2 separate regions of the Homo sapiens genome follow, and region 1 is linked to region 2. The links come from fine-mapping of genetic effects on gene expression. A gene starts in region 2. The other region holds a variant in brackets. All regions are shown on one strand. Distances are between the middles of the regions.

What was found. PIP is the estimated chance that this variant, and not a neighbour inherited with it, causes the effect. A credible set is the group of variants that fine-mapping cannot tell apart.
Region 1: its variant is the best candidate, but not a certain one, in a credible set for the expression of SEMA3E in lung (TOPMed, PIP 0.52).

The regions. Positions count from the first base shown.
Region 1 is chr7:83,527,241-83,531,653 of GRCh38, forward strand. The region is part of intron 1 of SEMA3E (semaphorin 3E); the gene reads right to left. Among named protein-coding and RNA genes, the nearest start is that of SEMA3E, 120 kb to the right of the region's middle. The variant C/T (reference allele first, on the strand shown) is at 2,078.
Region 2 is chr7:83,646,610-83,651,022 of GRCh38, forward strand. SEMA3E (semaphorin 3E) reads right to left here and starts at 2,530. Exons shown (of 17, transcript NM_012431.3): 1 at 1,819-2,530. The coding sequence starts at 1,933.

The DNA of each region.
Region 1 (4,413 bases), 120 kb before region 2:
CATATTAATTTTGGACTTCCAGCCTCAAGGACTGTGAGAAATTAAATTTCTGTTGCTTAAGGCAATTCCACTTGTGGTACTTTGTTATGGCAGCCCTAGAAAACTAATACAACCACCAGTGATCTTCTCCCAAGGCTTTACTCATTCCTTGGAGTAGGTGGACAAATAAGGAGAAAGGAAGTCTAGGCCATCGGCAGCACTATGACCATTTAAGCATTAAACCCTGCTCCTATGGAGTATATGACAGTTAGGTCCCTGCTTCTGCCAACTCCTGCTCAATTATCTTAGGTATTCAAGAATTTAGGTTACAACTACACCCTAGTTGTAAAGCCTCAGATATATATATTCAAAGATATTTATACTTAAACATTGGAAGCTGTAAGTGCAGATCAGCTTTGGGGTTTCAATATTTCATCCTTGAGATTGGCAATTTTCAATCATAATTGGTAGCAAAGACTTCTTGAGCTAAGATAGCATTTTCATGAAGTATTTTCCCAGAATCATATATATTGTCAATATTTACGTAGAATTTTTGTGATTTTTTTTTTGTTTGTTGTCATTAGTGATATTTTGGGAAACAACTTATATCATTTGTGGCAATTAATATAAAAATATTTACACAGTGATTATATTTAAAACCTGTTTTCTGCCTAAAGTAATTGAGTACTTAAACATCTAAGGTTAAGAAAACCAAGAAAAAGAATAAGTTAGTTATAATAAGACAGATGACCTTTTAAACAAAAACGTTATAACCCATGTCTATACATATAATGAAAATGATTATTTGATTTACACTGAATTACTGAACCTATAAAATATATTCTTACATATAATTTTTGTCAGAATTCTTACTATAATGCCCTTTTTGGTAGGAAAAAGTAACTGTCATCTAAGTTAGCCTACTGACAATACTGAATATAAATAAAATTTAAAGTCTCTACATAATATACATTATAAAAACTAATCTTTAGCAAATGAGCTATGAAGCATTTCTAACTTGGGAAACTCAAACAAAAATAAATCTTGAAAAATAATTTAAAACTTGAAATATCAAAAATCACAAGTGTAGCAACCGATATTTTCATCTATTTCTTTGAAGTTAGAATAGAAATACAATATTATCAGGGATTGAATAGGAGCTTTGTTGGAACTGATGATAAGGACTGTTTAAGACTAGCTGGGATTTATGAGAGATCAGACCATGAAAATCGTTCAAGTAGTAAACTGTCAATTATAAGGTGTGGTTAACAAGAGCACGAAGCTTGGCATAGATAAGTAATATTGCCAAAATTTCTTTATAAGTTCAATTTACTATTGATTTTAATATTAAATACTCATTCAATTATCTATACAGGCAAGAAAAGACTGGAAAAGTAAAACCTAAGTCTTCATTATAAAAGCTATTCTTATCCAAATCTTTAATGTTTTCAACATTTTAACTTACCAACTCCACTTGCAAACTATGACCAATAAAATAAAATATAATCTAGTTAACATAATTAGGGTCTCAAATTTTTAATAAATCTTTGAAACAAATACATTTTCAGAAAGAGAATATTATCAGAACAAAAAGGATGCAATAACATTTAAATGAAAAAATGATTTATTAGTGTTCTCTACCTTCAGATAGTCTTTTAGATTTTTTAATGAATTATACTATAAAGGGTTTAAATACGTGAAAAATATGCTCAAGTGGAGAGGTAAATACTTTTTAGATGATGAAAGTGTCATATCTCTACAAAAATCTTCCAGACAAGGTCTGAGCTTAAAAGAGTATTCAAGTTGCCCATTTACCCTCATTATAAGTTAACATTCTGGTAGAGTATTTGAAATCATTCACATAGTAATCATTGGAATGCAACATAAGTGTTTAAAATAGTAATTAAAGAATTTACAACTACCAGGAGAAGCAGCTCTTCAGATGACTAGAAAATTACATGCTTGATAAAGGGGATGAAAGGTCATTTCTACCACGGAGCACTCTAACTTGGCATGCACGTTATGAATAGCATCATGGCCTAAAACTGTACTTCAGTTATTGTGTTAATACATTTGTCCTAGTTTGCCCATGACCTTG[C/T]TTTCTTTCTAAGAGTGACTGATTCATGAAGACATTAACCAAGGTATAGAGGAGTTAATAGCTGTTTCTGTATACTCTTGGTAATTATGGTAATTTGAGCTGCCCGTCAAAAACTAGCAAATATGTTTTATAAAATAAACATAAAAGCATATTGTAAGGAGATTCAATTCCTTATGAAGATTAGATCTTGACTTCCAAAAAATTTACAAACATTTTGTGAACCCAGGTAATCTATGCATACGAAGAGACTTTAATCTTAAAATAGCCAAGAGTTAGATCATTCATACTTGACTTTAGCTAGTCTATCCAGGATATACTGTTATCTGGAAAGATGTCAGAAAAAAGCTGAGCAGAGTGATAGAGACCCTAACCAAGTGGCTGGAATCCATTGAACTGAAATGCTAGGTAGGGATACTAAGCAAAAATCAAGTATTAGTATTCTCTCAATAGTGCAAACTCAACTCTAATTGGGTCAAGCATTTAGAAAAGGAAAATTTGGGCATTCGTATGCCCTTGATTTCTCCCTTTCCCTCCATCTCTCCTTCTCTCCCCTTCCCAAATCTTTATATCGGATTATACTTTCTTCTCTCCATCTGTAGTAAAGCCCACTTAATATTTATTTATAATCTAAAAATTATTACATAAATTATTAAATATAGTCATTTTTCTGTATGTATAAACACATCATATTTGAGTTCAAATTTTACTCAATCATATTTTCTATGTGCTGTCAACTTTTCTAGGCCGTGGGCATAATGCAGTGATCAAAAGAGAATCATTGATGAGAAGGAAACTTACATTCAGTGGGCACAGATCTAGATTTAATGTTGTTGATTGTTTACTATAAGGTTCCTGCTACTACTCTAAGGCCTTTAACCTTGCTTATTATTCATTACAATAACCCTGTGAGTAGGTAATATGATTTTCTCCATTTTATAGATTAGAAAACTGAAGAACAAAAAAATTAATTTTTAAAACGTCTTAAATAACCAGTAGCAGAACATAAATCAAGTATTCTGCCTAAAAATATGTCTTCAGAACCACTTTGTAATACTGCCTCTCACTATAAACAAATATCAGAAAAAACTTTTATTAATGTTATCATAAAAAGTCTTCAGTGCTAAAGTTGATACTACATATATAGGTATTGGTTAAACAAATCACTGAAGAATTTTACAATGGAACAGTATATAGCCATTAAAAGGCAGGAGTAAATTTTATTCATTCTACGTGAAACAATTTCCAATATATATTCTTTTTAAAAATATTCAAGGTTTGGCCAGGCGTGGTGGCTCATGCCTGTAATCCCAACACTTTGGGAGGCTGAGGCGGGTGGATCCCCTGAGGTCAGGAGTTCGAGACCAGCCTGACCAAAATGGTGAAACCCCATCTCTACTAAAAATACAAAAAATCAGTCAGGTGTGGTGGTGCATGCCTGTAATCCCAGCTACTAGGGAGGCTGAGGCAGGAGAATCACTTGAACCCGGGAGGCGGAGGCTGCAGTGAGCCAAGATTGCGCCACTGTACTCCAGCCTGGGCAACAAAAGTGAAACTCCGTCGGGGGAAAAAAAAAATTCAAGGTTCTAGATAGTCAGCAGACATGAATTTGATGTAGTTTGTATTTTATAAAGTAATTAATATTTTATAATTTATTTTATACATCACACACAAAAACACATACGTACATTTTCACATACACACAGACATTTTCCAATAAAATTACCAAGGATTATTTTTAAGAAACAGAATGTAGTATTTGCAATAGCATGAAAAGTTTTATCTTAGTACACATTATCAATAAAACATATTTATAAAATAAAATCATCTTGCCCTAATATGTGCTTACCATTAAAATGACTCTATAATTAAGCATCTAAAGTTAATATTTTATTTGTTCAAGTATAAATATTTATTTCTACTTTGTAAGAAAATCAAACAAGGAGTAAACAAGTTGGGAAAATTCATAGTTTTTTTTTTTTTAACAAGTTATTTGTGTGCATGTGTGCTTCTTGATTGGAATATTCTTTTTTTTTTTTTTTTTTTTTCCGAGATGGAGTTTTGCTCTGTCACCCAGGCTGGAGTGCAGTGATGCAATCTTGACTCACTGCAACCTCTGCTTCCTGGGTTCAAGTGATTCTCCTGCCTCAGCCTCTGGTTCCAGAGTAGCTGGGATTACAGGTGCGTGCCACCATGCCCAGTGAATTTTTGTATTTTTAGTAGTGATGGGGTTTCACTACGTTGGCCAGGCTGGTCTCGAACTCCTGACCTCAAGCGATCTGCCCACTTTGGCCTCCCAAAGTGCTGGGATTACAGGCGTGAGCCACCGTTCCCAGCCA
Region 2 (4,413 bases):
TTGTACATATAGATACTAGCGGTTTTACTCTCACACCATATGACACCACTCATAACATCAGTTACAATTATTTCTTTGAATATAAGTGACATAATAAAGATGAACTCGATAATAGTATTATGCATAACATTTACTTGTATCAGAGAACTTTGGTATTTTTTGATCAAATTATTAACTCTCTTATGAAATATTAAAATGTGACCTGTTGGAAAACACACTGATATTGAACCATGAAAACACAAGTACCCCAATAATAGGGTATAAAATGTTAATACTAGATATAACAGAATTGTAGCTTGCAAAAACTGGCAGCTTATCTACTTGTCTACATAAGAAAAACAATCAATTATATTTTTTTGCATTTTTATTTGTCCATATTCCATCACATCAAATTTGTACATGTTGACATCTTTGATGATAAACTTCTTAGAAATAGGCATTTTGATACATACCATGATACATCTTCCCAAGTTAAAAGATTAGTGTTAATTCTGGGCACTATATTTTAAACACTTTACCAATTTAGTATCAATGGATTTCTTAAATTTATATTATCTACTGGATAGTATTATAGGAAATCTATTTAAACTAAGAAAACATCCACTATTCTAAAAATGAAAAAATTTCTATAGTCAACATTTACTGAAGATTGTCCAATAAAAAGACAAAAAGGCCAAACGTGTCACATAAAATTGAGGACTCCCTTTTTGTTTCTCCTGATAAATATTCTACCTGTACTTAGAAAATACAAGCTTCTGTTCTTTCTACAGTGGGGGACAATTTAAAAGCTTACACAATTGAAAAATGATTCTTATGTAATCCTGAGTATTACATCTGCTATCTGTCTCAATGTGTCAATGGCTAGTGATAATAAATACTTCTTTGCTGACAATTTATTCCGAATTTATATTAAGTCAGCAAAGTCACTTTCTCTGAGCATGGTTTTGTTTATTATTTGTTTGTTTACAGGAGGAATTACCAAACCTATTCATGACTGGCTTGTATTGGTCCTGATGCAAAATCTATCTTTTAATCATTTATTTATGAGTATGATGTTGCTTTACAAGACAATTGTAGAATGAAATATTTAAACATTTGCTGTTAGATCTTCATTAAGGCAATATAAATTTACACTACAAATGCTAGTGAATACTAATACTTTAATCCATATTAGCCATTTTACAAGCATTGTCATAAACTATTTTCCTTTGCCACACATGAAAAAATTCTAATAATCAATTCAACTGGAAAACTAATTTATATTAGTTGTTAATCATTTTAATTACATGATGATGACAGTTATGGGTAGGGCATCATTTTTCTCCTCGGGATTTTTATTTTCTCCTCTTACCTCCATTATGGAAACAAAACAAAACAAAAACAAAAAGAACAAATTGCACCCCTATTTCTATAGCCCTTTCCCAGCATCCTTGTTTCTCATATGCATAAACTGATATTTAAATATCTACTGTTAACTTGGTGGATTCAGCCTCTCAAGGCTATTTTCAACCTGCTTCCTCCCTTCCTGTGTTCCGCGGGCTAGTGAGTGAACTCCTTATTGATAAAATCCAATGTTTACAGACAAAAATAACATCTCTAAGTTGACATGTGATTTTGCACTGTTTTCAGATGAGGTGAGTATGACACATTAATCAGAGGTACTTAGAATTTTAGGTCAGTTTTGCAATAAATTTTTCAGGTGCATTTTAAAGGTCTTTGAAGACCATAAGCCTATGTTAATGTTAAACGACTTTTTTTTTCTTTTTTCTTTTTCTTTTTTTTTTTTTTTAAACAAAAGGATCTGGAAAGGTAACCTACCTTTATGTGACAGGCGTAACCGGGGGTGGGTAGTATCAGCTGTATGACCTCCTGTCCAAAGCTCCAGTAAGTAACCCCACAGGAGCAAGGTGATAATGTGCCCCGCGGATGCCATGCTGCCGTGTTCACCGTCCAAGCCCTCGCTCCTCACTTTAAGGAGGGTCTGAGTTTTACTTAGGACTTCCCTCCAGGGGCAGCGTGCGAGAGGCTTTGTCAGAAATCGAACGCGTTGTCATCAGAAAGCACAGTTCCGAAGTGCCATTTGTCAGGCTGTATTTGGCTATGTAAAACCTTTCTTTCCTCGGGACAGTTGTTTATAAGCCGGGAGCAAGAGGACATTCCAAAGAGTGAGTCTTCAGAGCCATGTCCTGTCTAGAGCGCTCTTCAGCAACTACGCCGGTAGATTCAGGAAGAAGCTGTATTTTTCAGTCACTTGGGCAAAGCTGTTCATTCAGAAAAAAAAAAAAAAAAGAGAGAAAAAAACAAAACCGAGCACACGCACTCCCTTCTCCCGTGGAGGTCCTCTCTTCGGGCTCCTGGAAGCCTCTCAGAAGTCAGCCTCTTGCACTGACTTGCCAAACTGCTAGTTTTAATTCACCTTTCACCTTGCTAATTAAAAACAAGAAGTGCCATTCCCTCTAGGAGTCGCAGGATCCACCCAGCAGGGATGCAGTCTGTCAGTGGCTGTTTACAGGAAAGTTCAGGCAGGGTTGAGCAGCGTACTTGCTGTTTCTAGGAAGTATTTCTGGTCCACGTGCCTCGCTCCCATCCTCCCTCCCAGTCATAACCAGCCCCACGTTACTCAGCAGCAGGAGAGAAGTCCACATTTTGATGGGGGAAATGGGGAGTTCGGGAGGGGTGATGACATAGACTGATTATTTAAGAATAGGTGACAGACAAGGATGTGGCATCAGAAAGCGCTTTTAAATTCTTACCAAGATAAATTGACCTAAGTTGAATAAATCCAACTTCTTTTGAAAATAATCTATTTGTAACCATCCAGAATCCAAATTCTGTTTTTCACTGTTGCCATAAGGTTTTTTTCAAAATTAAGTCTTTTTCTATTGCTTATATCTTAGGGATGTTATTTTTAAACTCTTTTAAGAAAAGTGTGTTTCAAGAGCCTGAAAAAAAAAAGTTCATCTGTGACTGTCTCATAAATTTGATAGAAATGATAAATTATTTACTTAAGCAAATTGGTCAAATGAAATTAAAGGCAAATCCTTTGTCCTAAAGCAATTCCTAAATTTTACTTCAAATTTAGGAATGTTGAAGTAATTTCCCCCAGGTAAGGTAACTGGCAAAGTTGAGATTCACCACCCAAGGGATTTCTATAAAGCAGGTATTAGAAAACTTAGGATGTGCAATACCTTAGGATTCAACTGCTATGGACTTCCAGAGTTGATTTTCCAAGGCACTGTGTTTGTGTAAATAAGCTTAACACAATAGGTCAACTTTACAATCTACCTTCAATCAATCTCAAAAACTAAGCCAAACACTCAGGAGCTGTTGGCATGGAAATGAATGGTATTATGTTAAGATACCAATAAACTTGAATAGATATTTGATTTGATAGTGGAGAGTTAAATGGTAAACACTGATCTCAACTATGATAACTTTTTCTTATTCTGTATTTTAAATGCTAATAGTTAAAAACTTTTTGAGAATTATGTTTTAAAATCACGAAACTATAACAAAAAGATAACATGTGTCACCCTGATATTTTTGCATTATATAGAAGCATATGTACAGCCAGGCATTCTCTACCCATTTTTCTAATCATGAGATGTTCTTGTACAAGCAGAGTATATTTAGCAAAATGTAAATGTCACTGGACATTATAAATAATTAGATTTCCAAGGTCTACAAAAGATAGCAAACTCTAAACATTATTTAACAGTAAAATGACATGAAGTTATTTAGAGACTTTTAACCTGGAATGCTTGCATATTTTAAAAGCCAGTCTGATGAGCTACAGACCTAAAGGTTGCTCTAAATGTGATACATTGTACCTTCAAAATTCTCTTTTGCTTTCTTCTAGGATGGAAACAAATGACAAAATAAATAGCAGCTCTTATATGTGTTATCTAATAGTAGGATTATAGGAAAAGTAAATGTGGTGCCTACACCTTTTATTGCAAATTCATGGCTACTCTCACATAGCTGAAATTCTACTTAAGATTGCATAGTGCCTGTCCTAACTCTACTATAGAACTGAGACAATGTGAGACATTACAATCATTTCATTAGTACACAAAATATGCACCTCTAAAGTGTTGACAAGAGAATATATGTTATGAATGCCAAGATCTGTCTTTGGTTTTACATCTCATCCTTCAGATTAAGTTGGAGCAATTTAGAAGTAAATGCCAGAATAATGGGTTGTTTAGATTCCTCAAAATGTGCTTTGGCTTATCTGCCAGTTGTCAATGTCCTTACTTATTTCTTTTAACTACTCTTTATGTCCTTTTACCTTTATCTTTATCCTATAGAAAATATATAGATGATGCCAAAAAATGACTGTTAAGAAAACTATCTATAGTCTCAGTTTCCCCTATGTGGCATTAGCAATGGAATAAAGAGTCTTTGGGACCA